2 linked regions of the Homo sapiens genome follow. The protein of the gene in region 2 purifies or fractionates together with the protein of the main gene of each other region. This does not show direct contact. Each region holds a gene or a part of one and is shown on either strand. Other genes may lie near its edges. The genes, in order: ITGA6 and SIPA1L3.

Region 1 (3,818 bases), on a different chromosome or scaffold from region 2:
ATTTCCTCAAAAGTGAATGCCTGAGAAAGAAATCAAATTCATATTGTTACATTCGGTTTGTCTGTACTGTGTGGAATCTGTCACTTCAAAAGATCAGAGGGTTTGGGGGAACAAAACGATCTGCTTGAGGTTTTGGAAGCTGGCAATGAGAGCAGCTTGCCGGATGCAGTGGTGGCCTCCTCATCCAGCGAGAACAGCAGTGGCTGTCCTGCCTCTTACCAAGCATAATTACTTTTTCTTCAATTTCTTCCGTCCCGTGCATGCGTACAGGCCTGCTGTTTTTGACCAGCGTTTCCTATACAGATCCTGATCAGTTTGTTTATAAAACACGGCCTCCCCGGGAGCAGCCTGACACATTCCCTGATGTGATGATGAATAGCTACCTAGGTTTGTGACCTCTGCGACGACAAATAAATTGTCTTGGTTGTGGTCATTAAATTTTTTTTTTTGATCCATACAGAGCATAAATCTTTTTATGCCCTATTTTGTTTCCATTGAAGCACACACAAAAAGCATGCCATGGCTGGGGCTCTGTGGCCAGATGGTTGTAAGAGCTGGACTCCATATTGCCCTCTAATCTGGTGGCTCATGTTTTTCAATTCACTTCACAATTTGAGAACTGCAACGGTAGTGGTGAAGCTTTTCATAAGTAAAACCCAATAAAGGGGGTGAGCTTATATTATTCTGCATCTGCCTCACCTTTCTATAGAAACATTTACTTAATTTGAATGGTTTTGATATGGGCACTTCTATTTGCTTTTCACCAGATCTGTTATTTGTAATCTGACATCCTACCTGATGCTTTATAATGGGTGTGTCCTAATGTTTTCTGCCCTCTGAACAAGTATATAACTGATACCAATGACAACTTCCTCACCTCTGTTGTTTATACTAGGTTCTCAAATACCATGTATCATCAGTCATTGTTTTGTCTGCATGTTTGTGTCTGAGAACTAAGTTGGTCCAAAACAATGAAATGCTATCTATGGTGTATTAATGATGTTAGCATTTGTTTTTGTCTGATTACCAAAGAGTTGATGCCTCTTACCAAGCTTAATTACTTTTTCTTCAATTTTATTTTATTCCTGTAAAAATACTGGTCATTAAATTACAGCAGAACCCTGTAACATGCACTCAATTATGCTTCCAGTCAGGTTATATATTCTCTGTGTATATGATGTAACATAACCAAATTATTCCTGGACAATTCAGTATCTAGCTTGATCTCCTTTTACCATAGTTCCAATATTAAAATAGGGTGGAAATTGATTCTTAAGATGTATGAATACTTCAAAATTCAAGTTATACATAGGTGCTTTTAGTTAAAAGTCTTAATATCCATAGAAAGCAGTAAATTAGCTAGCCCCAGGACTTTGTCCTTGTGTCACATCTGAACTCTGTCACTCATATTACGAATGTGATAGCTGGTGGGAGGGTCAAGAGGAGAGAGGGGTGGGAAGCCAGAGGAAGAGGTAATGATGGAGTTACCAATGTCATAGGCCTAAAATATATGGATTGATGTGAGGGGCTCTATATATTTTGTTTTTCTAGGTTTTTCTTTGGACTCAGGGAAAGGTATTGTTTCTAAAGATGAGATCACTTTTGTATCTGGTGCTCCCAGAGCCAATCACAGTGGAGCCGTGGTTTTGCTGAAGAGAGACATGAAGTCTGCACATCTCCTCCCTGAGCACATATTCGATGGAGAAGGTCTGGCCTCTTCATTTGGCTATGATGTGGCGGTGGTGGACCTCAACAAGGATGGGTGAGAAAGCCTCAGGTTATATTATGCTGCAAATCATTTCTGCTTTGACTAGCTTCTATACGACTGGAGAAGAGCCGTCCTTTCAGGTTCATTGACGTAAAGAATATTTTTATTGCCGCATTTTTACCAGCCTATCTTTATCATTTCTATGATGGCAGCAGACAGACATTCATATCCCTCCCCAGCGTATAGGATTATATTTTTGATTTTCAGTTTTTACTTATATGTTGGGATCATGAGTCTATGAGAATTAAAATTTGAAAAAAATTGACTCAGAAAACACTTGCATGATTCTGTTCTGTGGTTTCATATGGGGCTGATGGAGCATCAGCTCCCGTTGAAAACAGGAATTGGTGATAAAGTAAAAAACAGATATGTGGCTGTTGGTGCCAGTTGGGGGGGTTAGAACAGTGAGGTCTTAATGGGAGTCCTGCTGTACTATGGTTCTAACTCGAGAAATTGGCTTTGAGTTCTTACCCTTAGTATTTTTCTTGGGGCGTTTATTATAGGCTACCTTGGTTTTTAAAAAATGTTATAATTGAGTCATAAATTCTGGAGTTGAGGGCCTTTCTATTATATGTCTTTGTATCCTTAGTACCTAGACTGGTGTTGCTGGTATGTTAGCTGTTGGTTCACGGCTCTTTCCCCTCATTATGTTTTTAGGTGGCAAGATATAGTTATTGGAGCCCCACAGTATTTTGATAGAGATGGAGAAGTTGGAGGTGCAGTGTATGTCTACATGAACCAGCAAGGCAGATGGAATAATGTGAAGCCAATTCGTCTTAATGGAACCAAAGATTCTATGTTTGGCATTGCAGTAAAAAATATTGGAGATATTAATCAAGATGGCTACCCAGGTAGATAATAGATTATGAAATGGCTATGATTTATAGATTATTTGATTGTTTAAATAATAGCGCTGCTGGGCACAGTGGCTCACGCCTGTAATCCCAGCACTTTGGGAGGCTGAGGTGGGCGGATCACCTGAGGTCGGGAGTTCGAGACCAGCCTGACCAACATGGAGAAACTAAAAATACAAATTAACTGGGTGTGGTGGCACATGCCTGTAATACCAGCTACTCCCAGCTTTGGAAAGCTGAGGCAGGAGAATTGCTTGAACCCGGGAGGCAGTGGTTGCGGTGAGCCAAGATTGCGCCATTGCACTCCAGCCTGGGCAACAGGAGCGAAACTCCATCTCAAAAAAAACAAAAAAAAACCCCGAAAAAGCCAAACAAATAAATAATAGTGCTTGTGTCATCTTACTTTAAAACATTTTACTAGAGTGTTTCTAAAGCGTTTGTTAAAATGTTAAAATGTGATGTTGTCAACAGATATTGCAGTTGGAGCTCCGTATGATGACTTGGGAAAGGTTTTTATCTATCATGGATCTGCAAATGGAATAAATACCAAACCAACACAGGTAACCAAATAACCGGGATTTCTACAGCTAGAGTCTCAACTTTTTGCCCTATAATAAAATATTTAGGTTTAAGTGACTTTTCACACAAATCTTATTTTATTTACAAGTCCACAATAGTATAAATTTTTTAAAAATGTATTACTAGAAGATACCTTCAAAATAAATATATAAATGTAATGACTTGCTTGTTCTAATTGTAAAATTTCTTAGATAAGTTAGGAATCAAGGTAATCCAAAGCAAATGAATGTTATTCTACCCTGACGGCATTAAGATAAGAGGAAATACGATATATTCTCTTTAGTAGCATACTAAATAGAGATGAAATTGGTCAAACAAAATAAATGACTGTAACTACATGGAGAATGTAGACACCAAAAATTAAAAATGTCTTTTGAGAAAAATAAGACTTGTAGGGAAGGTAGGGAGATTTGGTTTGAAATGGCCTGATTGACTTAATACAATAAACAAGCTCATCAGAAATGGGCTCTTTTCTGCTTTGAGATACTATGTAAATCGGATGACTTTTATGAAATGAAATGTATGAAGTGTTAGATCATATAGAAATTTATGACTTGTATATAATATAATTTACTTATAAGTGAACTCTCAAATTTCAGTTCAAAAGAAACTTGTGT
Region 2 (3,818 bases):
GAGACGGAGTCTCACTCTGTTGCCCAGGCTGGAGCGCAGTGGCGCGATCTCGGCTCACTGCAAGCTCTGCCTCCCGGGTTCATGCCATTCTCCTGCCTCAGCCTCCCGAGTAGCTGGGACTACAGGCGCCCACCACCATGCCCGGCTAATTTTTTGTATTTTTAGTAGAGACAGGGTTTCACCGTGTTAGCCAGGATGGTCTCAATCTCCTGACCTTGTGATCACCCACCTTGGCCTCCCAAAGTGCTGGGATTACAAGCGTGAGCCACCGTGCCCGGCCTGGAACTTCTTTTTTATCCCTTTCTTTTCAATCTCTGTGTCATTCTGTTTGTGCATGTGATATTGATATAATCATCTTCATTTGTCACACAGTCTGAAGGGTAAAACGTATCACGTGGATCAGCTATGGAACAGATACCCCAAACCGAGGGCTGTCTGACTCCAAGTTGGAGCTCCAGTGTCCTGTGGGATGACTTAACTGACATTTGTTATGTTTGACAAGGATATTACTTTAAATATTTTTAAAAACTAGTTGCTGTGAGCTGGGCATGGTGGCTCACGCCTGTAATCCCAACTCTTTGGGAGGCCAAGGTGGGTGGATCACCTGAGGTCAGGAGTTCGAGACCAGCCTGGCCAACATGGAGAAACCCTGTCTCTACTAAAACTACAAAAATTAGCTGGGCATGATAGCGAGCGCCTGTAATCCCAGCTACTCAGGAGGCTGAGGCAGGAGAATCGCGTGAACCCAGGAGGCAGAGGCTGCAGTGAGCTGAGATCGCGCCACTGTACTCCAGCCTGGGCGAGGCGACAGAGCGAGACTGCCTCAAAAAAAAAAAAAAAAAAAGAAAAAGAAAAAAACAACAAAAAAAAACCTAGCTGCTGTGGGGTACTAGCTGCTAGTACTTCGTCTTTTTTTTTTTTTTTTTTTTTTAAGAAAAGCCCTCTATTCTTGGAAAAGAAAAACTTTGTCTAGCTAAAAACCTGCGTTTCCCAGCCTCTTTTGCACACAGGTGTGGCCACTAAGTGCAAGTAGTTGGACCGGGCTTCTGAGAAAGCTCTTTAACGCATTTATGCCGGAGGCTGCAATTTTTTGAATTTTTCCACAAGTAAAAATTCAGACCCTGGCAATGTCCTTGAGCAGTAGGCTATAACTCCCACATGCTTAGCGTTCCAATAATGAAACACTAGGCATAAGGGCATAAGGGGGTTGACTTGACAAGAGGTCTGCCTTTTTGTCCTTACCCTTTCCTCTTTTTCTCTGCCTGGAAACACAGATGTGACGCCTGGCACTCCAGCAGCCATCTTGGTGTGGAGCAGTGGGGGATCATGCCATGCACTAAGGCTGACCATACTGATGCTTAAGACTGACCATACCAGCCCTGGGCTGCTGAACTCTGGATTTCTTCACAGGAGAGTCCCTTCTATGTTGTTTAAGCCTGTTACTAGCAGTTACAAGCAATTCTCAATTTTTTTTTTTTTTTTTTTTTGAGACAGAGTCTCACTCTGTCACCCAGGCTGGAGTGCAGTGGCATGATCTCAGCCCACCGCAACATCTGCCTCCTGGGTTCAAGCGATTCTCCTACCTCAGCCTCCCAAGTAGCTGGGATTACAGCCACATGTCACCATGCCTGGCTAATTTTTTTGTATTTTTAGTAGAGATGCGGTTTCACCATGTTGGCCAAGCTGGTCTTGAACTCCTGACCTCAAGTGATCCGCCTGCCTCAGCCTCCCAAAGTGCTGGGATTACAGGCGTGAGCCACTGCGCCGGGCAGTTCCAAGACTTTTGTATTCGCTGCTCTGTTCTGGGAACAGTGTCTGCAATTTGCACATGGTGACTTCAGCTTGGTACTCAAACTGCACCTGCCTCGGAGGCCCCCTCTGACCATCCCCCACTGGGATCTGCCCCCACCCTCCGACACTCCATTTCCTTCTTCCCTGCTGTACTCTTTTCCACTGCATTTAGCAGCCTACAATCCCTTGTGTATTTTTCGTATTTATCCTGTTCTATGTTTGTGTTACCCATGAAAACATTATAAGTACTAGGAAGACAGAACATTTGTTTTAAGCTGGTTGATACTACATCCCCAGGCTCTAGAGAGTGCCTGGCACTGAGCTGTCCCCAAGTCCATATGTGCTGAGTAAATGCAGAGCTGTGTCCTGTAGCTCAAGGTTTATGGAGTGCTGCTGTGTCAGACACAGGGCTGAGGCCCGGGTGGCTCTGCTCACCGGATCCTCACAGCCCTCCAGAAGGGAGGTCTCTGTTCCCGCCACATCCTCAGTGCCAGAGCAGGGCCTGGCACAGAGTGAATGAATGAGTAGTGGGGGTCTCGGAGGCAAGCCTCGGCCCACCCAACCTTCCCACCCACACGCCATCCGTCACCTTTGCCCACGAAGTAATCCTGGTAGTAGCGGGCGCCCAGGTCCACATGCTCGATGCTGTACTGCCGGGGCCGACTCTGCGTCCGCTGCTGCTCCTTGGGAACTTCCAACACCGAGATGCTGGCGTTGGTGCGGTAGGCGCTCAGGGCGGGCTCTGCCAGGTGGCCCTCGCCGCTGCTCGGGGAGCCCACGGAAGCCCGGGAGAAGCTCACGTTGCGCTCACACTCGCCCCCGATCTCATTGCGGAAGTGCGGGCAGCTGAGCAGCAGGTCGTTGCTGTTGTCATCGCCGAGGTCCTGCTCCAAGTTCTCCTTGCAGTTTAGGTCCTCTGTGCTGGTGAAGGCCGGGTCCAGGCCTCCGAGGCTGTGGGCCCGCGAGGCCGTGAGGGAGGCCATGGCCGAGGCGGCGGAAGCGGCCGAAGCACCCGTGGTGGTGTTCCGCCGCTGCGACACCGACACCCTGTTGGCGGCCGCCTCGTTGAGGTCGAACAGCATGCTCTGCACGTCGAAGTGGGCGAAGCTCTTCTGACACACCCACGGCCTGCTGGCTTCCGGGGGGCTCCGGCCCTCGTCGGCCTCCCCCGGGGAACGCCCAGCCTCCCCCTCGGGTTTGCTGCTCCTTAGCTTCCGAAAGATGGACGAGTCCACCGTGTCCCCGCCGCCGAGGCCCCGCGCAGGTTTCTTCCGGGCCTTCTCCTTCTCCTTCGTGGGCTGCAGTGGCAGGAGGCTGTCCTTGGCGGGCTGCCCGTTGTGGGAGTCCCCCTTGGCTCCGCCGCCGCCCCCCATGAGGTGTGGGCCAGGATCTGCCCGGAGGAGCTCGGTGAGGGCCTGGCACCCTCGGGCGTCGGGCTGCTCGCTGCGGAACTCGTTCAGGATGTCGAAGAAGCTCTGCTCGGGCATGCCCTGCACGTCGATGGACGAGGTGCTCCCGTACTCGCGGAAGAGGGGCAGCGCCCCCGTGTGCCGGGCCCCCCGCGGCTCCCCCGCGTCCTCCGCGTCACACTCGCTGAGGGTGATCTCGCTGCTGCTGCGGTGCCGAAGGGGGAGGAAGGCCCTGCCGGGGGACCGGGGCCACCCGTCCTGGAACTCCACGTCTTTGGACCTTCTCCTGGAGAGTCGGTGGAAGGCTTTGGACCCTGAGGAAGCCGGGGTGCTGGTGGGGGGCTGTCCGTTCTGTATGCTCCTCATGGAATGGGCCATCTTGGTGGCCTTTGTGCCATCTGTGTCCTGGGAGGGGCTTGGGTTGCTGTGCTCTCTCAGGGCCTCCCGCTTGGGCGGCCAGTCGGCCACCCTTGCGCGCACGCCCATCTTGGGCATTGCGGGAGTGGTGGGGCTGGGGCGGGTGGTGGCGGTGGCGGTGGCGGTGGCGGTGGCCGGGCTCTCGCCAAGAGGCTGGGACATGCTGCCATTCTGGGCCCAGAATCCCAAGGGAGCGTAGTC

The links.
Region 1: the proteins of SIPA1L3 (region 2) and ITGA6 purify together in Homo sapiens (affinity purification with mass spectrometry; one large-scale study listed by BioGRID and IntAct). This does not show direct contact.

What each region holds. Positions count from the first base shown.
Region 1 is NC_000002.12:172,472,504-172,476,321, forward strand, and holds part of ITGA6 (integrin alpha-6 isoform b preproprotein), read left to right. Parts: intron 1-270; coding exon of another isoform or gene 271-387; intron 388-1,551; coding exon 1,552-1,762; intron 1,763-2,425; coding exon 2,426-2,619; intron 2,620-3,093; coding exon 3,094-3,182; intron 3,183-3,818. UniProt on the Homo sapiens protein: Integrin alpha-6/beta-1 (ITGA6:ITGB1) is a receptor for laminin on platelets. Integrin alpha-6/beta-1 (ITGA6:ITGB1) is present in oocytes and is involved in sperm-egg fusion.
Region 2 is NC_000019.10:38,081,662-38,085,479, reverse strand, and holds part of SIPA1L3 (signal-induced proliferation-associated 1-like protein 3), read right to left. Parts: coding exon 2,381-3,818; intron 1-2,380. UniProt on the Homo sapiens protein: Plays a critical role in epithelial cell morphogenesis, polarity, adhesion and cytoskeletal organization in the lens.